Linked DNA regions of Homo sapiens. The protein of the gene in region 4 interacts with the protein of the main gene of each other region in a pairwise test. Each region holds a gene or a part of one and is shown on either strand. Other genes may lie near its edges.

Region 1 (7,466 bases), on a different chromosome or scaffold from region 4:
GAGCCCAGGAGGCAGAGGCTGCAGTGAGCCGAGATCGTGCCACCGTACTCCAGGGTGACAGAGTGATACTCTACCACAAAAAAAAAAAACGAATATGATATAGTGTGATATAGTCTCTGCCACTTGGAAATTCAAAGCCTGTTGAGGACTATTATATCATCATTCCTACCACTCTCATTACATTTTCTAGGGTTTCATTTATTCATCAAAGAAAAGAGAAAGATGAAAGTAACTTATTTTGGTTTTTCCACCTAACATTATTGTTAAAGTTTTACTTTTCAGTATTAGCACTGCTTTTAGAAAAATCCATGGAGAGCACAAATGAGACAGCTGCCTAAGCAACTAGGCTTAGCCCTAGACAACATTTATTCAGAATTGTCCATTGACTTGTGGCAAGCAACATTTTGGTATAAAACTAAATATGATGTCAACTTGCATTAAGTCTAGTTCTATTGGTGGAAGACTGATCTGGGAGCTCAGAAATCTATTAGGGTAGGGGTGTCCAATCTTTTGGTTTTCCTGGGCCACACTGGAAGAAGAATTGTCTTGGGCCACACATAAAATACACTAACACTAATGATAGCTGATGAGCTTAAAAGCAAAATTGCAAAAATATCTCATGTTTCTTTAAGAAACTTTATGAATTTGTGCTGGGCCGCATTCAAACCCATCCTTGGCCACATGTGAGCCTCGGGTTGGACAAGCTTATGTTAGGGTCTTATCTCCAATCTTGGCGAGCTGTATAATTATGGATAAATAATCTCACCTGTCCAAGCCTCAAATCCTCATCTATACAATGATAAGGCTAACCTAGATGATCTCTAAGAGTCATTTCAAATATAATTTTATCTTCATCATTCCTACCACTCCATTACATTTTCGAGGGATCTCATTTATTCATCAAACAATTATTAAACACCTAGTGTGTCTCTGGCACAGTGATCTCACTGAGCTTACATTTTGATTGTCCCACTGGCATATTAGAAAATTGGTTAACACATAAGCTTAAAGTTAATAATGGGATTAAAAAATGGTTAAGTGGCTTGTTTATTTGGCTTAGAACTCATAGAATGATGCATTTACGGATCAGTACGAAACTCTCCACATTTGACAGTACTCAGAAAATAAGAATGTTATTAAAACACTGTTGCTAATCAGAATTTAATAGGCCTACCACTGACATGATACTCTGATTAAAAGCAACTGCCAATATATATAGCCCCTATTTCTGGCCCATAAAAGACAAAAAGGTATGATAAAGTCAGCTTTCGTGGGGAGAGAATCTCAGTCCAATCTCTAACACGAATACGTGTCTGAGTAACAGTCTGTACTGATCCTTCTTGTCAACTTTTAATCCTTCTAACTGATGAAAAGCATGAGACATGTGTTTATTTTAAGTACATGCTAGTGGCTGGCTTTCTTATTTTCACCTAGCTTTGTACAATTGTACAGAATTCATTAAATGCTTAATAGAAACACTCACGCCCCCCTACTCAACTCCAAGCAGGGAGTGGGGCTAAAAGGATAACTCAGTTGCTCATAAAGAACACACAAAAATTAAATCCTAGAAGGAAGTCGGAAAAAAGAACAAATAATAACACAAGGCAAACTATGGTATTACAGAAGTCAAAACTTCAGGGTCTTAATATGGTGCTCACTCCCTGTTAAGACAAAAGTAAATAAAACTAAGAGTTCCTATAATAGGAGAACAGGAAAGAAAGGAGGACGGGAGATAACATTTACTCAGCACTTAACAGGTGCCAGGCACTATGCAGGTAGTTTTCACTTATTCTTCTCAAGAACTACACATATGAAAATATGCCTCAATAGGTGATCATCTACAATAAGAGTTAACCACTTTCCTTCATAAAAATGATTCCAACAGCCTAGGAGTGTATTCTAATGCACATGCACTGTGGATGTAAATAATCATTCTGCCTAAAATCTTGTATTTGGGACTGATATAGGTCTTGGGTCACCTAGGCAACCCATCCATCTTATGAAAGATTTAACTTAGGCCAGACAAGATAAAGGGCTGGACTAAGGTCATGCTTGTTTAGAAGCAGAGTTGAGATCAAACCAATAATCAACACATCGATATGCCCCTCTGCTGGTAACTGTTCAGCGAAATTTAGTAACTACTAAGTTACCACCTATTAGTACTTTATTAAAACAATCCTAATAATCCCATTATACAAATAGCACAGAATCTCAAAAGAATAATTTGTTAATTTCTATATATTTTTAAAACCAACTGATAAGCAGTAACCTGCGTTTGAACGTATGTCTATTGCCCTGACTGCTCTCCACATAAAGATGCCAGATGCAAAGCAATGTTGGGGGAACTGGGGGTGATCGGTCGCTGAGGTAAAGATCGCCTCCTATAAAGCCCCACGTTGATGATCCTGGCCCTGGGCTCCCTGTCCCCTCCGCGATTTGTAACCCCTGAGCCGGGCGGGAGGACGGAGGATGAGTGTGCAGTAAAGAGGCTCCCGCGCCCTCGGCTCGCCGATTCCCCTCGCGACGCCGGGCCGGTTCCGAACGCGGACCGGACCGTTAAGGGGCTGCCTGGGCCGCTACGCCCCGCGCGGGCCGCCCCTCCCCCACCGCGGCCTGAGGAGAGCGGCGCTGCCGGCCGGGCCCCCGCGGCTCCCCGAGCGAACAATACAGGGGGTCCCCCGCGAGGCTGAACGCCAAGGCCCCGCACCGCGGGCCTCGCAGACAGCGTCGAGCCGCAAGGCCGCGAGAGACCACCCCGCAGGAGAGCGAGTGAGGAGGCGGTTATTCAGGGGGTTCAGAGGCCGCCGTGGCCTGACCGTACCTGGCTCCAGGTGATGAACTCGTTAGTGTGGGTTTCCTCCACAAGCGTCCACAGCTTGCTGAGGAAAGCCGGCACGTTCGAACTCTGCTTCATTGTTAACGCGGCGCAGGGATTCCAAATTCTACACCCGAACGCGGTGGTAGCGGCGGCGGCAGCTACGGCAGCAGCTCCCCGAGAACGCCCACAACGCAGGCGCAGCAGATCTTGGTCCCCGCCCCCCCAACCCCGCCAGGCGCGCGGCAAGGCCGAGAGGCCGGGCGGCCGCACGTGACGGACAAGTCTCCGCGCTCCGCCTGTGCGCGCAGTGGTTCCGCGCCTGTCCCGTCCCTGGCCAATCCCAGGAGCCGACTGCACGACAGAGAAAAGCGATTGGCTGCTGCTGACATGAAGGGGGTGGGAGCAGAAGGGGGTGGGAGCAGAAGGGGGCGCTGCCTCCTCATTTGCCTTTTATACAGAAGCCTTGATGGTAGCAGACTTAGGCTTGGGAGACCGTGTTTGGATGTTTCACGTGGAAACAGCTTATGGTTTCTGGGCTGTGGCTGGGAGGCTACAGAAACCCTTCAGGGCCTTTGAGTCATAAGTTTGGCAGGCAAAGTGTGGTTTGCACCAGTTTAGAGAAAGGATCCATTTGCATAAGGAAAAAACCAGCTCTCAAGCATGATGTGCTAGGCCCCAAATTGAAATTGTCTTAAAAATAATGAAACTTGTTCTTACATTTTCATTGGGAGAAAAAGCCCTCTTTAAAATATGTTTATCAAAAAGAGCAGTTTAAATAACTCACTCTCGATTACTTAAAACTGTAAACCAGGAACTGCAATTGATATATCATGTGCTGTTTTTAATCCAGTCATCAAGTGCCTACTCTGTACCCAGAATAAAAAGAAATAGACTCATTTGTACTATTTTAGTTAATTAAAATAGTTTTTCCTGCGTATACTTTACAGATATAGTCTTTTTTGCCTAAGAGATTGGTATAGTGGAAAAAACAATGGAAAAGGAGTCAGTAGATCTCAGTTTAGATAAAGCCTCTTGGACATTTTTCTGTATATTAAAATACACTGGTTCTGTCATTTAGAACAATTCCTTAGCCACCAGTGCCAGTTTTTTCCATTTCTTGACTGGGAATAAGATCTATCTTTTTACCCACTAAGAGTGTCTTTAATACTATAATGGCTGTGCAAATGCTTTGAAAATATGAAGTCTACAAAATTCGACTTTTTTTTTTTACAAAAGTCAGCATGTGAAGGCAAAAACTTACAAACAAGTCAGAGATAACATACAAAACTTCAACATAGGATTGGTTTACTTCTTGGGTGAATGTAAAATAGTACATTAAATATATATCTATCATTTAATGGAAGATATATGTATATCTCTTCCAATGAGCAAGTATTTAGTGAATGCTGCCTTTGTGCTCAGCACTGGGATGTTGGCTGAAGCAAAATCAGATATATGGAGGCATGCATGTGATAGAGGAAGTAATATTTGATGAGCCCTTATATATGCCAAGGGCTTTACATATATTATTGAATCCTCACAACAACCCAATGAACTAGGTTTTATTATCCCATTTTCCCAGAGAAGATTCTGAGACTCAAAAGTTGATTAATTTCTTCAGTCACAGCAAGTAAATGGGAGAGTATTTACACCCAAGCTTTATTGAGCTCAAAAGTATGTGCCCTTTCCATTGTACAATGATGACACTGTTTCAAAGCTCAAGATGCTTATATTCAAACTCAAGAAACAATATGACCACAGTGATCAGCACTCAATATATACAAAAAGAGCTAAATGTTTTGTATAAAATAAGTACTAGATAAGTTTAAAAAGACAGATTAGTAGGTTAAGGTGGTAAGGAAGGATTTCATGGCAGATAGGGACCTTAAGTTGGGTCTTGAGGTACAAATATATTTGAATAGCTAAAAGGAAGACAACAGAATGAGCAAAAACCAGGAAGCTAATGATCATGTCTGTCTATGGAGGGCAACAGCTCAGGAGGTAAGAATGGCAGTGTCTAAGGAGGAAATGTGGCCTACTTTCATGGCATTATATTATTTTCTTCTAAAAAAAGAAGGTGTGATTAGATAGAAGCAGAAACTTGTCTTTGGACATTCAAAGGCTGGGCATTCATAGGGCTGGGCTTAGTGGGGTGCCATACTTAGTTTAATGCTCTGTTCTCATCCTCTTGAAATTCTCAGTTTTTGAACAAGGGACTGTACATTTTCATTTTGCAATGGATCTTGCAAATTGTGTAGCTGATTCTGTTTCCAATGTATGGCATCTTATAGACCGTAAGTTTGAAACAAATGGTTCTCAAACTTAAGCATGCGTCTGAATCACTTGGAGAGGGAAGCCTTCCAGTAAGCAAATGAGCAATATCACTTATCAGGTAGTATTTGTAATACTTATAAGGGCAGTGACAAGGATAAGTTATTAACCAGATAAGAAAACCTTGGCACCAGAAAACTTAGATGATGTATCCAAAATCATCTAGTTAAGGTTGGAATTGAAACCAGGTCTTTCGTAGTCTGAAACATGCTTTTTAAATTTACACCAATGTGTCTCAAACTTTAGCGCAGAATCACCTGGACAGCTTCTTAAAGAACAAATTGCTGCTTTTGCTTCCATGGCTCTCAGTAAGTCTGGGGTACAGGTTAAGAATTTTTATTTTTAACAAGTCCCAGATGACGCAGATGCTACTGGCCCTGGGACCGCATTTTGAGAATTGCTGTTATAGAGGAAAAATTAGTAAACTGAGCTTCCCTTACTACTAAGATGTACAGATTTATTGTTATGCTTTACTTCTGTCTGTTTTTTTTTTTTTTTTTTTTTTGACAGAGACTTACTCTGTCATCCAGGCTGGCAGGCTGGAGTGCAGTGGTGTGATCTTGGCTCACTGCAAACTCTGCCTCCCGGGTTCAAGCAATTCTGCTTCAGCCTCCTGAGTAGCTGGGATTACAGGTCTGCACCACGAAACCTCACTAATTTTTGTATTCTTAGAAGAGATGGGGTTTCACGATGTTGGCCAGGCTGGTCTTGAACTCCTGAGCTCAAGTGATCTGCCACCTTGGCCTCCCAAAGTAATAAGATTACAGGTGTGAGCAACTGCACCTGGCCACCCTTCATCTCTTAATAAAATCCAGATGTTCCAGGAATAACTTAAACGACTATGTTTTGTTTTTCTATGAACTTATAATCGTTAATATTTATTATAATTAGTACATTTTCTGAAAAACTAAGTATTGAATGCAGACTTTTTTTGGGGAAAAGGAAATTATAACTTGGCTTGTTTGCACTTATTTATAAAACTGAGAGGGGAAGAAAACAAAATCAAGCTTTATCTCACAATTATTTGCCACCTATAATATCCCTAAAATATCAGAAGAAACAGATTTGCGCCAGTGTCGACAATTTTGACATGTTTATAACACAAGAAGATAAAAATGTCACTTTCTTAAAGGAGTTGCCTCCTGTTAACTCCAGTTTAAAAAGCTGGATTATTTTCATGGTTCATTTGCAGCCTAGAATGTAAGACTTAGATTTAGAATAACATTCAAAAATATGAATGATCCAGACCTTTGTCTAGGAAATAGAAAAGCATATTATGGAGCAATTTGATGCTTCAAATCATCAGACGATGCCATAAATTCTATCCAATCGATTTTGCAAAACTAATTGGAATCAACGGTGCAACCAGTATTAGCTTTTAAAGATTTTTTTTTCAAGGATAGGATGATTAAATCCAAAGGTGAACTGCATAGAGGTTTCCACCTATATTGCTATCTGGACAAAGTGTTGATTTTCTTCAATTTTGGAATGACTTAGGGGACCTTAGGCAAATCACCTAACATTTTCTAGTCCTCGTTCCTTATATATAAGATGTGAGTGAAAAATATCTGCTATGCTCACTTCACAGGGTGGTTTTGAAGATCAAAGAAATTGTCTCTTCCTCCAGTCCACTTTCACAATCTTTATGGATCTCTTTCTAAAACACAAATCTGAAAAGGTCACTTCCTGACTTAAAACTATTCAGTGACTTCCCATAATTTCCAGAATAAATTCAAACCCCTTAAGGGGCATAAAAGGCCTTCTCTGATCTGATGCCGCCTACCATTTCAGTTATTGTCTACCATTGTTTACAACGCCTTTCCCTTAGCCACACCTAATTGCTTGTAGTTACCTTACTGGTCATATTCTTTTATACCTCTATGTATTTCCATAGGCTGTTGTCTCTGCCTGCAGAGCCCTTCTTCACCATTTTCCCCTAAATTCTTCTTCAACCTTCCAGGTCAAGTACAATCCCGTACAAACATAAGTTCTTTTGTGAAATCTTCCTTGGTAACATTTATTATAGCACTTACTACATCATATTATAATTATTTATTTACATGTATTTTTCATTCTAGACTATGAAACTGCTTCAACATAAATACTATGTCATATGTACATTCACTTATTTACAATGACATTCACAATGCATGATATATGTTAAAATATCAATAAATATTTGTTGAATTAATAAATGAATACATGAACAGGTAAGTGCTAATCATCTGTTTATTCTTGCATGACCCCCAAATCTGGGTTAGTTGTTCCTCCCATGTGCTCCTATAGCTCTGGAACTTGACCTTCATAGTTTTTACCA
Region 2 (7,034 bases), about 47 Mb from region 4:
CTTTTTCCACGGAGAGGTGGTGGGGTGGTTTCAGGATGAAACTGTTCCACCTCAGACCATCAGGCATGAGTTTGATTCTCATAAGGAGCGTGCAACCTAGATCCCTCACATGCACAGTTCACAATAGGGTTCACACTCCTGTGAGAATCTAATGCCGCCGCTGATCTGACAGGAGGCAGAGCTCAGGCGGGAATGCTCATTTGCCCACTGCTCACCTGCTGCAGTGTGGCCCAGTTCCTAACAGGCCACGGACAGGTACTGGTCCACAGCCCAAGAGTTGGAGATCCCTGCTCTAGGACAGTCAGACCCACCCATCCCTTTGCAAATAACCACTGCACATTTGCTGATAAACGGATGGTTAAGTGGACAGATAAAGCCTATTAGCCGTTGCTAACACTATAGCCTTGAATAAAAGGGGCGGCTCCACCAGACTGAGACTTGTCTGATTTGGAAGCCCTATTTGGAGTGCAGGGCTGCTTCCTCTTGTTCCTGCAGCCTCATCCCTGCTTCTAACTTATTCCTCCCCAGTGAGCCTTCAAAGCAGCTCACAGCCTTGGTCCAGCAGGGTGATAAACTTACAGGTCCTAGACCCCTGGAGGAATTCCCAGGGTGTGATCTCTAGGGGGAGTTCTTAGGAGCTTGGTGACCCCACATATAATTCCTGGTGGGCAGAAGTGGGAAGGAGAGAAGTGGCTTGTGCTCCCTCCCTGCCCCCTCCTCACTGCCTGGACAAATGCCCCAAAGGAGCCCTGTCCTTCTCTGCTCTGCCCCTCCCCACTGGAGCAGGGTCTGGGTGGAGCTAATCCTCCCACACCCCATGCTAAGGGAGCACAGAGCACCGGAGTGGAAGCCAGAGACCAGCACTGGTCCCAGGACCACCACTGTGCAACCTAGGACAAGTCTTTGGCCTCTCTGATCCTGAGTGTTCTCCTCTGCAAGGTGCAGATAATAGCCCCTACTTCATCCACAGGCCTATAAGGAGGATCAAAGGCTATAACGAACATGAAAGCACTTCACAAAGGTAAGACGTTATTAACAGGCATATGATTATTTGTGTGGGTGGATAAAGAGAGCAGCTTCTGTTAGGCTGATGAGCCCACATGGCAGGTAGGGAGGAAGTTTGTACTTTTCATGTGTGATTATCCACTCTACCCATCTCCAGCCCTATGGGGCTAGGGCAGACAAACCAAAGTTTCCTGCTTAAGTGGCCCCTTCCTAGGCCCTGTGGAAGGAGGGGACCTCCCATGGCTGCTGCATCCGTGCCCATGCCCCTGCCCAACCCATTATGGCCATGCCCCTTCCCTTCCTTAGACTCACCTCCCTGGTGTTGTGGAGGCATTTGGCCTCAATGTCGTATCGCTCCTCATCCACCACCTCCACCTTGGCGTGCAGCTCCCGGCACAGGTCCTGGGGGCCGCAGATGGATCATGCAGGTGTGAAGAAGAGGGGAACAGAGACATCAGTTTCCAGCCCTTGACCCTCTCCCCAGCCCCTTTGCAAGACCTGGGATCCAGAGAGGAGCTGACAGTCTCCTCCACTCTGAGGCTCATGACGGGCAATAGCTCAAAGGGTATGCCCTCTGTTCTCCTGTCTGAATGTCATGATTTCTTAAAAAATAGTATTCCTTCGCTTGAACCCAGGAGGCGGAGGTTGCAGTGAGCTGAGATCACACCACTGCACTCCAGCCTGGTGACAGAGCGAGACTCCGTCTCAAAAAAACAAACAAACAAACAAAAAACTAGTATCCTTGGCTGGGCACGGTGGCTCATCCCTGTAATCCCAGCACTTTGGGAGGCCAAGGTGGGGGATCACCTGAGGTCAGGAGTTCAAGACCAGCCTGACCAATGTGGTGAAACCCTGTCTCTACTAAAAATACAAAAATTAGCCAGGCATGGTGGTGTGCACCTGTAGTCCTAGCTACTTAGTAGATTGAGACAGGAGAATCACTTGAATCTGGGACACAGAGGTTGCAGTGAGCCAAGATCACGCCACTGCACTCCAGCCTGGGCAACAGAATGAGACTCTGCCTCAAAAAAAAAAAAGTATTCTTTCATCATGGCTCATTGCAGCCTCAACCTCCTGGGCTCAAGTGACCCTCCCATCTCATTTTTTTAAACTTTGTATAAAGAAAAGGTCTCACACTATGTTGCCCAGGCTGGTCTCGAACTCCTGGGTTCAAGTAATCCTCCTGCCTCCGCCTTTCAAAATGCTGGGATTACAGGCATGAGCCACTGTGCCCAGCAAAATAAAATAGTTTTCTTATGATAAAAGTAATGCGTTAATTTTAGACATTTTGAAAACTATGTATTAAACAAAAATAATAAAAATTAAAATACCTAGTGATGCCACCACCCAGGGATACTTAGTAACATTTTGATATACTTCCTTCCAGTCTCTTTTCTCTATAATCACTGGCATTTAACCAATTTACCAGTGTTCTGAAAACATTGAAGACCAAATTCTAGGAAAGGGTAGACAAGTCCTTGGAAAAGTGGGGCTTCTCCCAACCCCGGCCGCCTCCCCACTCCATGCCACCACACTGGCTGATTGTGAAGCTGGGCCGCCCAGCCCAGGCAAGTCACGCCTCCCCTCTGATGCTCAGTTCAGTGCCCGTAAAATGGAATCTAATGTTCCCACCTCACAGGTGGTTGTGAAGATTAAATGAGACCATGTAAGGGAGGAGTGCCCTGTAAATTATGGAGCCTTGAGCTGGTGTTAGTTCAGGCTCCTGCCGCCTGGTCCTTGGAGCCACCCACACAGCACCTCCAGCCCCACCCTGCCCCGCCCCACCTGCCAGGCTAACCTGCAGGGCACTGAGGGACAGGCCACGGGTCTGCAGCGTGGGGATGCGCTCTGCCAGGTAGCGCACCTTCTCAGCCTCGCGCTCCTCGTGCTCCTGCTCCCAGCATTCCTTGGCCTTGGCCAGCATCAGGCTCTGGACAGGACACACCTGCTGAGCTGGGGGCCTCACATCTCCCACCCGGCATCAGGGAATGAGGGGAGGGCAGCCACAGCCTGGGCCAACTCTGAGACCACTGTCCAGTGTAGAAGTGTATGCAGCAGCCATGGACAGGCCACCATGAGGGTACACCCAGTGGCTGCACACAATGTTCCTCAAGCCCTGGAACTTGTTTTCCCCGGACAGTCTTCCTCTTATCCACTTACTGTCTGTTTTGACCCACAAAACTCCAAAGAGAGAAACACATATGAAAATAAAGGAAGTCCCTCTGCCTGCATGAGTAGCTTCCCACTCTGAAGCTGGTCACCACCTACTCTAGGGACCACAGGCGGATGCCAGAATCCATACTCGAGGATCCCACCTACTGATCACCTGAGCCTGGCACTGGCTCCAGCAATGCTGGACTCCTGCCCCTCATCATCCTCACTCTGGCCTCCTTCCTTTCTCCTTGCCATAATCCTCCACATCCCTTCAGAGTCTGCTCTGCTGCCCCTCTGCCTCCCACTGGGCATCCCCCCACAGCCAGCCCCCAGCCTCACCTTCAGCAAGAGTTTGCGGGAGGCAGTGATCTTGGGTTTTCTCTGTGGGCAAGAAGAGAGAGAGACAGGTGGTGAGGCAGAGGCTGCAGAACTGGAATTCTGGTCTAGGACAAGACAAGTGCCAGCCAGCGTTCTCTATCTTTATCCGGAATCCTCTGCTCACCCTACGGTGCCTTAAAAGCTCATCTTTGTTATTTAACCTCTGCAGTTCAGAGAAGGCTGCAGTCAGCTACCTTGACCTAGGGGCTGAAGCCTTAACTTCCCACTCTGATTCTGCTGCTGCTGAAATCTTGTAAGATACTATGAGGGCCACATGGCTTCTACAGGCACCTCCTTCCTCATCTGTAAATAAGGATATTAGGACCCCCCCCCTTACTTAGTTCACAGAGTTATTGCAGATGAAATGAGATCATGGATGTGCAAATCCTTTGAAAATCGTAAAAGCTATGTGTTTTCACACTCCAGGTAGTAATACAGCAATACCTTGATGATCCGTCATGCTGCATAAATAAGCTGTGAATTTCCCAAATAAATGAAACGTATCTATGTAGACCTCAAAACTTTTAAAAATGTTAACACCACCCATACAAATCTTTCTAAGATATAAAACCACTGTTTTATCTTCTTATCAAAAATCCTAAACATGTTCTTGCTTACTAGTCCTAGCCCTGTGACAGTGGTCCCTCAGGGTTGGCAAAGGTGAGTAGTAGGGCTGCTTGGTCCCCAACTAATGAGACTGTGATGCCTTTCGAGCACTAGAGTATCTTCTGGGCCATAGGCGGTCACTTCTCATTGCCAGCAGGAAGCATCCTACCTAGACTTAATGTGCTGTGAGCCGGCAGAGCATGGCTCTCAAATGTTATTCCAGGGTGTCAAGTAGAAGTGATTAGGCTTTGAGAGGGAAGTTCTCATGAGAGACAATGGATGAGTTTCAGCAAATGGAATGTGTAACTTCTATTCTGACTGTTCAGAGTGGTTGGTTTGTCTTTTCCTCTCCTAAAGATTTTTGTTACATTTCAGATAAGTGCAATTTCAAAAGAAAGAGCCTATGACTCTAAGCATTACTACCATGGTTTACACACTGTAATGTACACATGGCAAATGTTTGACTGCGATCTTATTTCCCCACCACTTGGTGAGCCGATGGCCACCTCATTTGACCATCAGTCAGTGAGGACTCACTTTAATACGAGCCTCAGCAAAACTTAAAAATTCATATGAATGTTGAAAAGTAACATGTTCAATTCTTACTGAGAATCTCTGTGCCAAATATCCCCTCCATCAATACTGCTAATTCTCACTGTTTCCATCCCTGGGCCCACATCCCTATCCCTGCCATCCCCATCCTTGGACTGTACATAGGCTGTGATCTCAGTAGCCTGGTAAGTCTGGAGTGTATAGAATGGCCAGTGTCAGGGTTTTCTAACACCTGAGGGATTTAAGGACATCTCTTTGCTCCTCAATCAATGTTCAGCCATTGGGCAAGGGTGGAATAACCCAATGACTATCCCTTACCCTTCCAATATAGCTTTGCACAGGATCAGCTCTGCATGGAATAGGATGGTCCCCCCAGGACTGGACCAGCTCTCAGAGTGGGTGAGGAAGAGCTTGTGCTCAGCAAGGATGCAGAGTCACACCCAACCCTGCTGCAATACCAGTCCTTCCAGTGACATGGTACACTGGCACAGCAACTCCCTGGACACTAGGAAGCCCCACATCCAGAATCTTCACCTGACGTTTCCATCTCCTGGGAATTTGTTCAGCCACTAAATACCCTACACCCCCTGGACTCCCACCAGGCCTTAACACAGGCTCTTCCCTCTCCTCAGATGCCAACCCCACCTTCCCACTTTTACCAGTCGTTAGAGTTAACCAAGACAGAGATACCCCAAATATCACTTACCTCGCTTCAGGCATCCATCACAGGAAGGACGGGGAAAGAGCAGAACACAGAGTGAGTATGAACAATGAGGATTACATGTGCAGTCGCAGAACCTCACAGACCAGCTTGGGGGAGGAGGGGGCCAGTGACAACAGTGAGCCAGAAAGTCATCAGGCATCAGGCAAGGGGAGCGGTTTGAGGTTCCGGCAGAATAAAATAAAAATTCAACAGCCCTTTGAACTACGGGGCATTCTTATTGGGAGGTACTGGGCATCGTAAGTTGGGGACAAGTGGTGGAAGGGGAGGGAAGCCTTAGCGTAGGGTTCCAGCAACGTGAAAGCATCCATCCACGGGTGCGTGGGTAAATTCCCAAAGCTTTGTTCACCTACTGCACCAGTGTTAAGTGGTGGCCTGGTACATGCAATTCATGTGATAGATCAAGACAGGAAATCTCTGAGGCACAAGCCAAAAAGGCACTCCCAGGGCAACCTGGGAGTGAGTTCTGCTCAATGGCTGGGAGGACACAGGCAGCACAGGGGAAACCATCAAGTGCTGCCCCTGTTTGAGGACCTGGTCTCTTAGGGAAAAGCTTTGGGGGTTGAAAACATGGTGCCTCCACTGCGGGGCTGAAGTCTGTGGCAAAGGGACTTGCCTTCCTGGGGCCCCAGATGGCAGTGAGACTACTTACACTTCCGGCATGGTGGCAGTGAGACAGCACCTAGGGGGCACAGAGGAATCATTCATAAGGGAAAGTGGAAACCCCTGCCCCTGCCCAGCTGGGCCTTGGGAGCCCAGCCTAGGAGACAGAGTCAGAACACAAAAGGAAGAAATCAGACACATTGGATTCCAGCAGGTCAAGATGGGACAGGGTTGCAGGGCAGGGGTCAGCTAACTACAGCCCATAAGCCTGACCTGGCTCCCAGCCTGTTTTTGCTTAAAGAATTGTAAGCTTTTTTTTTTTTTTTTTTTTTAAGAATTTGCAACAGAAACCTTATGTGAGCTACAAAGCTATCTGGCCCTTTCCAGATAAAGCTTGCCAATCCCAGTGGAGAACAGAATGGAGTCCATAGGAAATATGTTTGGAAAGTGAGAGCAGCTGGGCGCAGTGGCTCATGCCTGTAATCCCAGCACTTTGGGAGGCCAAGGCGGGCAGTTCATGAGGTAAGGAGTTCAAGACCAGCCTGGCCAATATGGTCAAACCCCGTCTCTACTAATGATACAAAAATTAGCCAGCATGGTGGTGCACGCCTATAGTCCCAGCTACTCAGGAGGCTGAGGCAGAAGAATTGCTTGAACCCAGGAGGCGGAGGTTACAGTGAGCCGAGATCGCACCACTGCACTCCAGCCTGGGTAACAGAATGAGTCTCCTTCTCAAAAAAAAAAAAAAAAAAATAAGTGAGAGTGTAGCTCACTCATGAGGGCCTTGAAGGACAGGCTGAGTTTAGACTTTATCCTGTGGAATAAGGGTGGTCATTGAAGGGCTCAGAGAGAGGAAGGCCTAGAAAGTGAATGAGCAGAGTGGATGCTGGAAAACGGGTAGCTGCCACATGGCACAACTCCATCCACAGATGGCAATGCAACTGGCACCTCCAGGGTGGGGCAGTGGGAGGCCTTGAGTGGGAGAGAATAAGCCGCAAGGCAGGGCAAATCCCGT
Region 3 (7,034 bases), on a different chromosome or scaffold from region 4:
GCTTCCCTTGCACTAAGATGCTTTATTTCTTCACTGCTTTCCCTCAAACTGTCACTAAAATACGAACTTTAGGATATTTTTATTCTCCTCACTCAAACCTATGAGACTTGTTTTCCAATTTCAAAGTTTTACTGAAAGAATTCGGTACTTGTAATTTCACATTATTCTTTCATTTTAGTATTTTTTTTTCTATTTTAAAAATCTATATTTAGTACATTATTTCACACACATAGTCTTATAAACACTGGGGGGGAAAATCCAAATTACTACCTGTAAAGTTCTATGGGAAAGATCCATGAGTTTCCTCTTGTATTGTGCAATTTTGGCTACAGATGTAGTTTGATTCTTTTGTAGCTCACTAATATCTTCAGATATGATCTGTTTAAAAAAAAATTGGGGGGGGGAGGGTTAATCAAATATCACAACTATTTATCAGTTACACCTGTATGGAAATTCTAATCTTGGGATAAGCCTGAGATTCATCTCTCAAAATATAAACTCTTTCCCTATAAATCTGTGCTTTATATTTCTTCCCTTTTTACATACCTAAAATTTTTTTAAAAGAATCATGCAAAGATATCTTTAGAGCTCTAGGAAATTTAGCAATGAGGCAATACATAGAAAAAATAAGCTGGGCGTGGTGGCTCACACCTGTAATCCCACCACTTTGGGAGGACGAGGCAGGCAAATTACTTAAGGTCAGGAGTTCAAGACCAGCCTGGCCAACATAGTGAAACCCCGTCTCTACTAAAAATACAAAGAAGTAGCTGGGTGTGGTGGCATGCACCTGTAATCCCAGCTACTTGGAAGGCTGATGCAGGAGAATCACTTAAACCTGGGGGATGGAGCCGAGATCGTGCCACTGCACTCCAGCCTGGGCAACAGAGTGAAACTCCATCTCACAGAAACAAAAAACAAAAAACAGAGTGAGACTCCATCACACACACACACACACACACACACACACACACACGGCTGGGCACAGTGGGTCACTCCTGTAATCCTAGCACTTTGGGAGGCCAAGGCAAGAGGAGTGCTTGAGACCAGGATTTTGAGACAAGCTTGGGCAAAATGGCAAGACCTTGTCTCTACAAAAAATATAAAAAATTAACCAGGTGTAGTGCTACATGCCTGTAATCCCAGCTCCTTAGGAGGCTGAGGTGGGAGGATCACTTGAGCCCAGGAGTTTGAGGTTGCAGTGAGCCGTGATCATGCCACTGCACTCCAGCATGGGCAAGAGGGAGAGGGAGAGGGGGAGAGGGGGAGAGGGGGAGAGGGAGAGAGGGGGAGAGAGGGAGAGAGGGAGAGGGAGAGAGGGAGAAGAGGGAGAAGAGGGAGAGAGGGGGAGAGAGAGGGAGAAGAGGGAGAGAGGGGGAGAGGGGGAGAGGGGGAGAGAGGGAGAGAGGGGGAGAGAGGGAGAGGGAGAGAGAGGGAGAAGAGGGAGAAAGGGGGAGAGAGGGAGAGAGGGAGAGAGGGGGAGGGGGAGGGAGAGAGAGAGACAGAGAGAGAGGGAGAGACCTATCTCAAAAGGAAAAAAAGAAAACACATACTTCAGAAATAATTAAGGAATCTGAAGTAACATGGAATACAGCCAACAACCAGGTCTGAGTGGAAAAAGTTAAGATGTGTAAGATGATATCTAGGGGGTGTCTTAATAGACAATTAGCCCTGTATCTAACTACTGACAGCAAGTACAGTACATTTCAACATTAACTGTTACAGAATACTTGGAGGGAGTAATCAGAGTGCAGAGGAAAAGGAATGATATTAATTATGCAGCAGGATACATTTTTATGCCTCTGGATCTTTGACTTGCTGTTTTACCTGACTGAAATCCCACTATTCTGCCTTAGGAAGTCTTAACCTTACAGGGTAGGTTAAAATCTCACTATTTTATTAAAGCATCCCAATCAGAATTAATCCCATAATTGTCTCTATCATAATTAATCATTCTATGCCACTGGCTTACATTTACATGTTACAAGAAAGAGGTTAAGATTGTGCAAGACATATTTTAGCACATCCACCTGCACACATCACCTTTTACAGAAACTTTCCAATGCCAGGCCATGCTGAAAGGACAAAATTAGGTGGCCATGTTTTATATTACAAAACCTAGGCAATCTCCCCATCCCAATTTTGAAAAATCACCAGGGTTTTTAGATACAAGAGTACTTACAACATTATTTTCTACCAGTAATAACTAAAAAAATTAGACATGTTATCAGCCACAGTATTTATTAACAAATACTAAAACCATCTAGGAATTGATCCAAGAAAGCCATCTAGGAATTGATCCAAGAAAGAACGCATGAGATTTTAAAAGGGAATATTTTAAAATTATTTTAAAGGACATAAAAGACTGCAAGGATTAAAGAGACATACCACATTCATGGATGAAATGATTTAATATTAAAATTCAATTCCCACAAATTAGTCTTTGCATTTAATGCAATTCCAACCATAATTCTAGCATTCTGACAAATTGATTCTAAAGTTTTTATGGAAGAATAAAGACCCATAAAGACCCAGAAAACTTTGAAAAGAAGAACCAAGATTAGAGATTCATGCTACTAGATATTAAGATACACTACAAAGCCATAAGACTAAAAAAATGTGGAATGGGTGGGTATAAGAACAGACCAACTGGCCAATGAAACATAAGAGAGGGTCTAGAAATAGATCACATATATATATGCAAACAGTGTAATTTAAATTCTTTGATAATCATTGAGGAATATCATATTTTTATAGGCAATATTAAAAATATAGGGCTGGGCGCAGTGGCTCACGCCTGTAATCCCAGCACTTTGGGAGGCCAAGACGGGTGGATCACGAGGTCAGGAGATCGAGACCATCCTGGCTAACACGGTGAAACCCCATTTCTACTAAAAATACAAAAAATTAGCCAGGCGTGGTGGTGGGCGCCTGTAGTCCTAGCTACTTGGGAGGCTGAGGCAGAACAATGGCGTGAACCCAGGAGGCGGAGCTTGCAGTGAGCCGAGATTGCGCCACTGCACTCCAGCCTGGGCGACAGAACGAGACCCCCATCTCAAAAAAAAAAAAAAAAAAAAAATGGACCCACTATTTAGAGAAAAATAAATCTGAGTTCATACCACATACTTTATATAAAGGTAAACTTCATGATGACAACAAAAGACTCAAACGTGAAAGGTTAAACTCTAAATTTTTTTTAATGTAGGATACTCTCAGACTTTGGGGTGAAAAATTATTTAAGCAAATTCCCAAAAAGAAAATACAAGGCAAACATTTAATGGATATCATTACATTAAAATTAAGGATTTCTCTTCAACTACAGACACCAAAGACAGAATTAACAAAGAGATGAGAAACTAGAAGATATTTACAACGTTATAAACAGAGACTACAATCTAGAGTAAATGATTACTGAAGTTCAATAAAGAAAAAATAGGAAGCCCAGTGGAAACACTGGCCAAAGATATGAATGATTTCAGTTCTGGACAAGATGGACTAAGCATATACAACCCCAATCTCTCCCATTTAATATAGCTATAAAACTTGGATGGAATACACGGGGCAGCTATTTGGGAACTCTGGCAGGAAGATCAGGTAAGATAGGAATTTAAAGTACCAATAAACTTGTGGTGAGTTTACCCATTTTTCCCCTCAGGCGTCCCTAGTCTGGTTTCAACCCAGCCTCAAACCTGGAAATGAGCATAAATGCTGAAAGGGAGCTCCAAGGGAAGTCTGCTAGTTATAGTGGGAGGAGATACATCGTATTACCTAGAGAAAGGTTTCTCAACTTCAGCACTATTAATCTTGGGTAATTCCTTGTTGTGGGAGTACTGTTCTGTACACTGCAGAATGTGTGCAGCATCTGGGCCTCTACACATTAGACGCCTGTAGTACTCCCCAACCAAGAGTCTCCAGACATTGCCAAATGTGCTCTGGGAGACAAAATCACCACCACCACCACAAGCCACTACTAAGAAGTACTGCTCTAAGACTTGAAATAATAGATTAAAAGGAAATGCTGAAAAAAAAAAAAAAGTCCAAATAACTCAAAAGAAAGCAGAAAAGTAGAAACAGGAATGAAAAACAGAGGCTACAAACACAAAACAAATAAATGGTAGGACTAAATCCAAACTTTTTGCTGTCTACAAGAATCTCGCTTCAAATATAACAATATAGGTAGGTTAAAAGCAAAAAGATGGACAAAGGTATGCCATACAAACACTTTTTATCAAAAGAAAGGTAGCGTGGCTATGTTAACACCAGACAAAGACTTCTGAGTGTCTTGAGTAAGTGTCCATGAACAGATGAATGGATAAAGAAAACATGGTGTGTATGTGTACACATATATACACACACAATAGAATACTATTTAATCATGAAAAAGAATGAAGTGCTACCATTTGCAGCAACATAGATGAACTTGGAAGACATTTTGTTAAGTGAAATAAGCCACGTGCAGAAAGATAAATTCTGCATGTTCTCACTCATATGTGGAAGCTAAAAAAAGTTGATTTAGTAGAAGAAAAGAGTAGAATAGTGGCTACTAGAGGTGGAGAAAGAGTAGGAGTAGGGAACTGCCAAAGGTTGCTTAACAGATACAAAAGTACAGCTGGATAGGAGGATTAAGTTCCAGTGTTCTATAGCACTATAGGTAACTATAATTCACAACCATTTATTGTGTTTCAAATAGCTATAGGAGTGAATTTCCCATGATACCAACAAATGATAAATGTATGGGGTAATGGATATGCTAATTACTTTATTTGATCATTACACACTATATCCATGTATTGAATTATCACACTATGCCCCATAAATATGTAGTTATGTATCGATTAAAAACAATAAAAGAAAAGGCCATTAGAGAAGATTTAAAACTTACCGAGGATTAAGAGGGATATGATATAATAATAAAAGGTAAATTTGCCAAGAAAACACAACAATCCTATATAACAACAGCCCTTCAAACTATTAATACATGAAGCAAAAACTGAGAAATGAAAGGAGAAAAACACAAATCCGTAAGTGTTGCTGTAGATTTCAAATCTCTTCTCAAACTAGCAGACAGAAAAAACAACAAGAATACAGAACTGAGCAATACTATCAACCAACTGGATCTCACTGACATTAATAGAAAACTTCACCCAAGGACTGCAGAATACACATTATTTTCATAGGCTCCTGGGTTATAAAACCTCAGCAAAGTTGGCCGGGCGCAGTGGCTCACGCCTGTAACCCTAGCACTTTCGGGAGGCCGAGATGGGTGGATCACGAGGTCAGGAGATCGAGACCATCCTGGTTAACACGGTGAAACCCCGTCTCTACTAAAAATACAAAAAATTAGCCGGGCGTGGTGGCAGGCGCCTGTAGTCCCAGCTACTCCGGAGGCTGAGGAAGGAGAATGGCGTGAACTCAGGAGGTGGAGCTTGCAGCGAGCCTAGATCGCGCCACTGTGCTCCAGCCTGGGCGACAGAGCGAGAGACGTCTCAAAAAAAAAAAAAAAAAAAAAAAAACCTTAGCAAAGTTAAAAGAATTGAAATCATAGAAATTTCTCTGACCTTTAAGAATCTTTAAGTATTTAATTATGAAAGTTTTTTTTTTTTTTTTTTTTTTTTTTTTTTTTTTTGAGGAGTCTCACTCTGTCGCCCAGGCTGGAGTGCAGTGGCACGATTTCTGTTCACTGCAACCTCTGCCTCCCGGGTTCAAACAATTCTCATGCCTCAGCCTCCCAAGTTGCTGGCATTACAGGCGTGCACCACGACACCCAGCTAATTTTTGAATTTTTTAGTACAGACCAGGTTTTGCCAAGTCGGCCAGGCTTGTCTTGAACTCCTGATCTCAAGTGATCCACCCACCCTGGTCTCCTAAAAAAGTCTACTTTATGAAATAAAATATTAAGTATATTTAAGCATTAATTTTATCAACATACAATAATATACCAAGACAATTATATGTCAACATAAAATAATCATTACTATAACCTTCATTTTCATAAGGCCCCATAAATAATAATATGCAATCCCTGGCTGAAACTGGAAATGACAGTCTAATTAATCCACTAAGACAAGAATTCTAAATTCATTATTATATCAAATCAGATTCATGTGATTTGGGGACTTCTATCATAAAGAAGGTAGTTGTATAAAACTATTAAATTGCAGTGTATGCTACATTGTTTCCTGATTAAGATAAAACAGTAGCACATATACTAAAAAGAATTAAATGTCTATAATCCCTTTCCCTACTTCCAGGGCCAGGGAATAAAAAGCTAAATGCTTACATCTAATCTGGTTTGATGCTGCTTAGTCATCTGATCTTGAACCTTCAGTCTTCGGAGAAGTTCCTTAAAACCCACCATTGGTACAGGAATTAACCTGAAGAAACGCAGTGAACAATTTTCAGACCTTAAGCCTATTACTACAAAATACAAGAAGTGAAGGTTTTAGTAACACTCATGTAATTTTACATCAACTTTCTAGGGCTCTAAGGCAGATCTATGACTATGAGATAACCATGTTATACCAAAGAGATTTTATTCAACCTCCCTATTTTACAAATGAGGAAATACAGTTCAGTCAAAACATTACATTATTAAATGAAAACGCAAATAGAATTTTCCGCTCCTAGTTAGTTCTCACTATGCTATGCTGCCTTACCATAATCTTTTTTTTTCTTATTTTTTTCTTTTTGTTTTGGCTGAAGCTTTAGCTGGACAATAATCAATATTTTTTAAAGGCCAGGAAAATGAAAATAAACTTGTCTCATATGTAAGAATTATAATTAATAGCTCCCATGTTTGCTTTCCTAGTAGCAAATATTAGTTCTTAAATGAAACAAGATGAAGACATACTTACTTTTCAGAATCAGGGTTATCTACCTTGGCCTGTTCCCAGATAATAGGATCAACACCTACCACAAATAAAAAATATTTTTTCTAAAACAATTTTCTATTTTTATAATATGTGTATGACAAAGGCTTTCCTAAAGCAAGACCCTATACCTAGAAGCTATAATGAAAAGTGACTGTCAAATATAAT
Region 4 (7,034 bases):
AGAGCTGATAAGCGAGTGTATGGCAGAGAATCAGATGGTGTGCCAGTCTCAAGGTTTCTGATTGACTTGGGCAATTTGGTGGAGACAATAATGAATTCCAGGTGACTCTAGTGGAATATTTGTTCAACTGAAAGTGGAAACATAAAATGTTGGTGGAGTGAACAGTGATTCTAGTGATTTCTTTCTTCCTTTCTTTTTTTTGAGACAGAGTCTCACTCTGTCGCTCAGGCTGGAGTGCAATGGCATGATCTCGGCTCATTGCAACCTCCGCCTCCCGGGTTCAAGTGATTCTCCTGCCTCAGCCTCCTGAGTAGCTGGGATTACAGGTGCCCGCCACCAAGTCTGGCTAATTTTTTGTATTTTTGGTAGAGACGGGGTTTCGCCATGTTGGCCAGGCTGGTCTCGAACTCCTGACCTCAGGTGATCCACCCACCTCTGCCTCCCAAAGTGCTGGGATTACAGGTGTGATCCACCGTGCCCAGCCTATTCTAGTGATTTCTTTAAACGTCTTTCTGTTTAAAAGTGGCTGATTAGTTTTAGTGTAAGCCATAAGATTTTCCAAGGTCTAGGGTGCAGTCTAATAGATGGAGCTGATACGAGTTGAGGCTTTGTTTTGGAGGATCTTGAGAGAGTAAAGTAACTGTTGCTAAAATTCAAGATCCAGTGAAAGTACTCATGTGGTTTATTCTTTGTTCTTTGTTCTTTCCCTTGGTAAGTTTTTGTTTTTGTTTTTCTTTTTGGCTGCTCCTCTGGGAAATAACTGAGAATGTTTTTGGGAGGGGGAGGGGTGGATTTCAGAAAAGGATGGTAATTGGGGGACAGCTGCCCTCCAGTTTAAATACTTAAAGATTGTTGGAATACTCACTTATTTTTATAAGTGGTCATGGAGATGCTGGGATGGGAGCTTGTTGTCTTCCTCAGACACCTTTTTCTAGGTAGATTTTTTTCCTCTGTTCAGTTTGCCAACAACTTCTTATTATCTGTGCAAGTGAGATGGACTGGCTGGGTGACTCTTTATGGCCAGTGGCACTTTCTCATCTCCTTTGTTCTGGAGACCAGATAGCTTTAAAGGGGAAGACAGAGGAACTGGCCATGTGTTGAGCTGCAGAATCTTAGGCTCAGTATTTAAATATGGACATTCTAGGAGTAGTTCTAAGGTGGGTGATTCCTGCCTCCCATCCCCCCTCTTTTTTTTTTTAGATGGAGACTTGCTCTGTAGCCCAGCCTGGAATGCAGTTGCACGATCTCTGCTCACTGCAACCTCCACCTCCCAGGCTCAAGTGATTCTCCTGCCTTAGCCTCCTGAGTGGCTGGGATTACAGGCATCCACCACCACACTCGGCGATTTTTTTTTATTATTTTATTTTTTTATTTTTAGTAGAGATGGGGTTTCACCATGTTGGCCAGGCTGGTTTCAAACTCCTGACCTCAAGTGATCTGCCTGCCTCAGCCTCCCAAAGTGCTGAGATTACAGGCATGAGCCACTGCGCCTGTCCTGGGGTGATGTTTCTTAAGCTACTTTCACTCAGAGCCTGCCAAATTTGCTTATTGAGCTGAGGTCTAGTGAGGAAGTCCTCAGAATGGGGAAGTAGAGTTATAGTTAAATATTGATGAAATCATTTCTTCTACTCCCCAGCCTGAAGAAGCTTAATCTTTTGACTTTCTGCTGCTCTGCTGAACTTTGAACCCCTACTGAGGAGGAGACACCTGTGGGAAGGGAGGGGGGTTGCTTGGGCTACCTGTTATCCTCTTAAGGCATTCTGGAATGTGGGTTTTGCAGACTCCTCCCTCCTCTGGAGCGGGAAACTGCACTCTCTGATGGTATCTCATGCTGTTAGTGGGATTGTCACTTAATTATTTTCCTGGTTACTTTGTGTGAACATCCAAGCCACCCTTGTTGGGAAGCTAGATGAGTCTAAAACTGAGACACTGGTGTTCTAGGATCCATCTTTCTTTTCTGCTCTCGGCCTGGAAATTGGTCTTTTATAATGTAGCACCTTGTCAAATTTACTTTCAGTTCTGTATTTCCTTTTTACTTCTGTCTAAATGGAAACAGATGGCAACATAATGTTTAAATGCAGTCTTTTTCCTTATCTCTTTTTTTTTGTGGTAGTGGTGATAAAAATACATGTAAAATTTACCATTTTAACCATTTATAAATGTACAGTTCACCTTATCTGTTTTTAATAACTCTCTCCTAATTGTCCCTGATATTTTTCTCTTTTTAATTTTTTTCTAGTCTAAAAAACTTAAGAGGCTGGGTGCGGTGGCTCACACCTGTAATCCCAGCCCTTTGGGAGGCCTAGGCGGGTGGATCTGAGGTCCACCTGTGGATCTGATGAAACCCCATCTCTACTAAAAATACAAAAAATTAGCTGGGCATGGTGGCGCATGCCTGTAATCCCAGCTACTTGGGAGGCTGAGGCACAAGAATTGCTTCAACCCTGGAGGCGGAGGTGGCAGTGAACCAGGATTGGATCATGCCACTGTACTCCAGCCTGGGCGAGTATCGGCACTGGGGGAGTGAGGGGTCAACTGCGGGAGTGTAAGGTCAGCACACTACCTCTGCCTCAAAAAGAAAAAAAAAAGTAATAACAAAAACCTTAAGAGTACTACCGAGGGAGTGGGCTTTGATTCTGGCCTTAATCCTAAATTCCTAGTCTCTGGAGAGGTTAGAATGCTTGACTGTTGTGTGGTTCTCTTCTATTCGTGGGCCTGGTGGACTAAGCAACCTTTCTTTGGTTGCTTTGCTTTCCTTTCTCTTTCCCCAGTACTAGAACACACACTCACAGGGGAGAGGCAGATAGCCCTTTACCCCTGCTTAGGCTCCGCCTTTGTTTACTGTGGGGCAGATAGCTCTACTCCCTTCCAACTTGCCTCCCCTTTGGTGAAGTTTAAATTCCCCAAGGACACGGTATCTCCCTGGGTAATGCATTTGTGAGCACAGTGAACTCAAATAGTCCTTTACTCACAGGGCTCAAGCCTAACTTTCTGATACTCTTTCATTTGAATTTTATCTGTGGCTTTTATCTAATAAGAGAAACCCCAGTGTGGCAGAAAGCCAGATTTAGGCTAATCCCCTTCTGTCCTTGGCCCTGTTCTGCCTGAGAGTACCATCACACTGTCAGTTTCTTGCCTGGAGGGGTTGACATATTTGGGAAATCTCTTTGGAGTGGAGGATAGCCGAAGGTGTTGTCAGCCATCTGGTAATGTGACTGAGTTGCTGGGGCATTCTACTCTTTCCCCAATCCCTCACCCAGGATCTTTGCTTCCTGGGCAGTGGAGAATCCTATTATTACTTGAAGGGAAGAACCACAGAGTACTGTATATCCTCCACACTGGGCAGAGATAGGTCAGCTGAAACACCAAAACCGCATCTGGATGGGCATGCTAAAACCTAAGATGATTAGGAAAGTGCAGAGCTTAACGTTTCCCAGGGCCACAGGTAGCCTGGTCTGCAAAAAGTAGGCCTGTTCAATCTCTTGGTACCCATTGGTATTATTTGACCTGAAAGGGACAGGCACTGTGCATAGACTCATGAGGGAAAAGTCAGCTTGTCTTCCTTGTTCCTTTAAACAAAGTATCAGATCTTGATTCTGCAGGCTTTTGTTTCATTGTAAAGAGAACTGATCCTCTGTGCTAGGAGAAAAGAGAAAGGCAAGGTCCCATTCCCTACCACTCCACCCTGGAGGGGGTCTCTGAAGCTTTTTCTAGGACTCCCATCTCAGGTTCTGCTTTTGATACAGGCTTGTTCATGTGTGCATGCTCTTAGGAGGGCACCAAGATGTGTTTTCCCCCTCTCCCTTTTCAGCCTTGCTAAGAATTCTATTGTAAATGCTGATTTGTGGGAGAAACTGCCTGAGCCAGCTTGCTGTCATGGCAACTGTACACCCCCGCCCCATAGCCTGTTATCTTCTACTCCAGTTTGGGTAACTACTGGTGAGCTGCATGATGTCTTACATTTCATGAGCTTCCTCTAAATCTAGTTGTATTTTTCGTCTGAGGGGGGTAAGTCATTTTACTAGCAGTGTCTCCTAGGTCTTGCCTGATAGCCTGACTTGCTCTTGATCCATGGCCTTGTTGGGTTTGTGAGGAGAAATGTGTGTTGTTACAGAGAACATCTATTTTTCTGGAAGAGGCAGAAGCAGAGAATACTTGTCTTTGTGGTGTTTTGAGTAGTGTAGTTAGAGGCACAAATGGTTTCTTAATGATTTCAGCTTATGTTGACTTCTCGATTTTCTTTGCCTGGTGGCTAGATTGTAGCCCCAGCCCTCTGCTTCCCTTCCTAGTCTCTTCAGCTTCTCATGTTTGTATGTGGAAGTTTTTGTGCCAGTCCTGATGGTTAAAAAGGAGTCTTTTGGTCTATATTCTTCCTCATCGGAGCTAGTGGCCCAGGCTGTTTCTATAGCTGCACCAACTCCTGCCTGCCAGGAAGAAATCAGGGTAATAGAATTCAGGCACAATCTGGGCTATAGAAGAGAGATCGTGTTTACCAGGCACTTGGATAAGCATCTGAACTGGGTGGTGTGCGGGGCATATTAAATTCTTGTATACTGTTGCAGTCAGGGTACCTCCCACCAGTAAAGGTAGCGGGGAGGCAGTCATGGAAAGAGGTTTTCCTACCATTAGAATTTATCCATCCACCTGCAGGCTGCCTCCTTCTTTCCTTGTTTCTTAGAGAAAACCCATCCAGGATGGGTTTACTTGGACTCTAACCTATATACTTCATTGTGAGATGGAGGCCAGGGGGAAGATTGTCGCTGTATTAGAGGGTGAAGCTAAGGGGATGGCTGGAGGAATAGAAAGGAGAAAATTCAGAAATTTGGAGGAATGGTAGTGGGTGTGGTGGAAATGTTCTTTCTTTTTTGTAAAGCTATCAAAGCAGATAATTTTAGCCAGAAGCAGCTCCTTGTAGCCAACTTAAAAAAGGAGTACGGGGGCACAAGTTGAAGGGCTGGTGAGTAGGCATCCCAACAATATTCCATTCTTTTGCTTTCCAGTCTGGAAGGCTATTCTGGAAGACATTCCCTTGGCTAGTTATTCTTCTGATGTGTTAGGGTAAAGTGATCATAGGAATAACGGTTTGAGTTAAGCAGCAATTAATAGGTAATCCAGGATTCCCTCTTTTTTTTTTTTTTTTTTTGAAATGGAGTTTCACCGTGTTGCCCAGGCTGGAGTGTAGTGGCGCAATCTCAGCTCAGTACAACCTCTGCCTCCCGGGTTCAAGGGATTCTTCTGCCTCAGCCTCCCGAGTAGCTGGGACTAGAGGTACGCGCCACCACACCTGGCTAATTTTTGTATTTTTTATTAGAGTCAGGGTTTCACCATATTGGCCAGGCTGGTCTCAAATTCCTGACCTCATGATCCACCCGCCCCAGCCTCCCAGAATACTGGGATTACAGGCATGAGCCACCACACCCAGTCAGGATACCCTCTTTAAGAAACCTTGCTTTTTTTTTTTTTTTTTTCCTGCTTTATGAGACACTTGAAAGGTTACTGAGGATGAGACATGCCTCCAAGCCAGAGCTCAGGCAGAAGGAACCCTTCATTGACTTTCTTTTCTGACTCCAGTGTGTTGAGGAATTTGAACTGAGTCCAGGAAGTGGGTGGTACTAACTCACTGGGCTGGGCAAGGAACTGAGTTTTAAAACACTCTTCCTGTGGAACATATGGGAGTTCGTTGATGGGAAAGGGAGGAAATATATATATATAAAGTTATGTCTGCTAGATCTTTTAACAGCTGAGCTAAGACAAGTTCTACCCTGCGAGACTCTGGCTTTTTCATGGTAGTCAACCCTGATCTTAATGTCATAGTTATTTCTTCTTTTCTCCATGCCTCTGCTTCCCTTGTCCATTCTTTCCTTCAAATGCAGGCTGAGGCTGAGGTGGCCTCCTTGAACCGTAGGATCCAGCTGGTTGAAGAAGAGCTGGACCGTGCTCAGGAGCGCCTGGCCACTGCCCTGCAAAAGCTGGAAGAAGCTGAAAAAGCTGCTGATGAGAGTGAGAGGTGTGTAGGGAAGCCTGATGGAGTGTGGATTTTAAAAGTTCATAATAGTTCTGATCAAGATTTCCTTATAGACCTGTTTTCTAAATAGCAATTCTGGCTGCGTGTGATGGCTCACGCCTGTAATCCCAGCACTTTGGGACGCTGAGGCAGGAGGGTGGCTCAAGCCCAGGAAGTTGGGGCTACAGTGAGCTCTGATTGCGCCACTGCACTCCTGGGTGACAGAGAAAGACCCTGTGTCAATCAGTCAATAAAAATAAAATACTAACTCCATCACACAGGATCTCCTTTCTATTCTGCATATTCTGTCCCCTTGAAGACAGTAAGGGTAACTTAGATGTTGTGACCCTTTTGTAATTGGTATTTCCTTACAAATTGGCCTAATGATCCTTAAAATGGGATCACCAGTATGACTTCTACTTTCTGGATCATAAGCTTCTATTTGTGAGATTAATTTCTCTAAAACAGAGGTTCTCTAAGTAAGGTCTCAGACCAGCAGCATCAGCAATACTTGGGAACTTGGTAAAAATTCACATTCTCAGCTCCTATGCTGATCTGCTGAATCAGAAACTTTGGATGTGGGGCCTGGCAATCTGTTTTTAGTAAGCCTTCTCAACGCTGGTTGCATTATTAGAATCATAGGTAGGGGTGAGGGGGGAAATCACTGGGGAATTTAAAACTGGATGCTTAGATCTCATCCCAGTTCCATTAGAATCAGTTGCAAGAGGGGTCTGGGCATTGATGTTTTTAAAGTTCTCCAGCTAATTTTTTTTTTTTTTTTTTTTTTGAGACAGAGTCTCGCTCTATAGCCCAGGCTGGAGTGCAGTGGCGCAATCTGGGCTCACTGCAAGCTCCGCCTCCCGGGTTCACGCCATTCTCCTGCCTCAGCCTCCCAAGTAGCTGGGACTACAGGTGTCCGCCACCACGCCCGGCTAATTTTTTGTATTTTTAGTAGAGACAGGGTTTCACCGTATTAGCCAGGATGGTCTTGATCTCCTGCCTTTGTGATCCTCCCGCCTCGGCCTCCCAG

What was found.
Region 1: the proteins of TPM3 (region 4) and HSF2 interact in binary tests that used the Homo sapiens proteins (3 or more experiments, as listed by UniProt).
Region 2: the proteins of TPM3 (region 4) and TNNI1 interact in binary tests that used the Homo sapiens proteins (3 or more experiments, as listed by UniProt).
Region 3: the proteins of TPM3 (region 4) and NUP54 interact in binary tests that used the Homo sapiens proteins (3 or more experiments, as listed by UniProt).

The regions. Positions count from the first base shown.
Region 1 is NC_000006.12:122,395,186-122,402,651, reverse strand, and holds the start of HSF2 (heat shock factor protein 2), read right to left. Parts: upstream 3,001-7,466; 5' UTR 2,915-3,000; coding exon 2,822-2,914; intron 1-2,821. UniProt on the Homo sapiens protein: DNA-binding protein that specifically binds heat shock promoter elements (HSE) and activates transcription. In higher eukaryotes, HSF is unable to bind to the HSE unless the cells are heat shocked.
Region 2 is NC_000001.11:201,411,715-201,418,748, forward strand, and holds part of TNNI1 (troponin I, slow skeletal muscle), read right to left. Parts: intron 6,099-7,034; 5' UTR 6,080-6,098; coding exon 6,069-6,079; intron 5,406-6,068; coding exon 5,402-5,405; intron 3,541-5,401; coding exon 3,499-3,540; intron 2,936-3,498; coding exon 2,804-2,935; intron 1,408-2,803; coding exon 1,318-1,407; intron 1-1,317. UniProt on the Homo sapiens protein: Troponin I is the inhibitory subunit of troponin, the thin filament regulatory complex which confers calcium-sensitivity to striated muscle actomyosin ATPase activity.
Region 3 is NC_000004.12:76,124,379-76,131,412, forward strand, and holds part of NUP54 (nucleoporin p54), read right to left. Parts: intron 6,907-7,034; coding exon 6,852-6,906; intron 6,372-6,851; coding exon 6,278-6,371; intron 379-6,277; coding exon 271-378; intron 1-270. UniProt on the Homo sapiens protein: Component of the nuclear pore complex, a complex required for the trafficking across the nuclear membrane.
Region 4 is NC_000001.11:154,175,088-154,182,121, reverse strand, and holds part of TPM3 (tropomyosin alpha-3 chain), read left to right. Parts: intron 1-3,917; exon of another isoform or gene 3,918-4,008; intron 4,009-5,873; coding exon 5,874-6,007; intron 6,008-7,034. UniProt on the Homo sapiens protein: Binds to actin filaments in muscle and non-muscle cells. Plays a central role, in association with the troponin complex, in the calcium dependent regulation of vertebrate striated muscle contraction.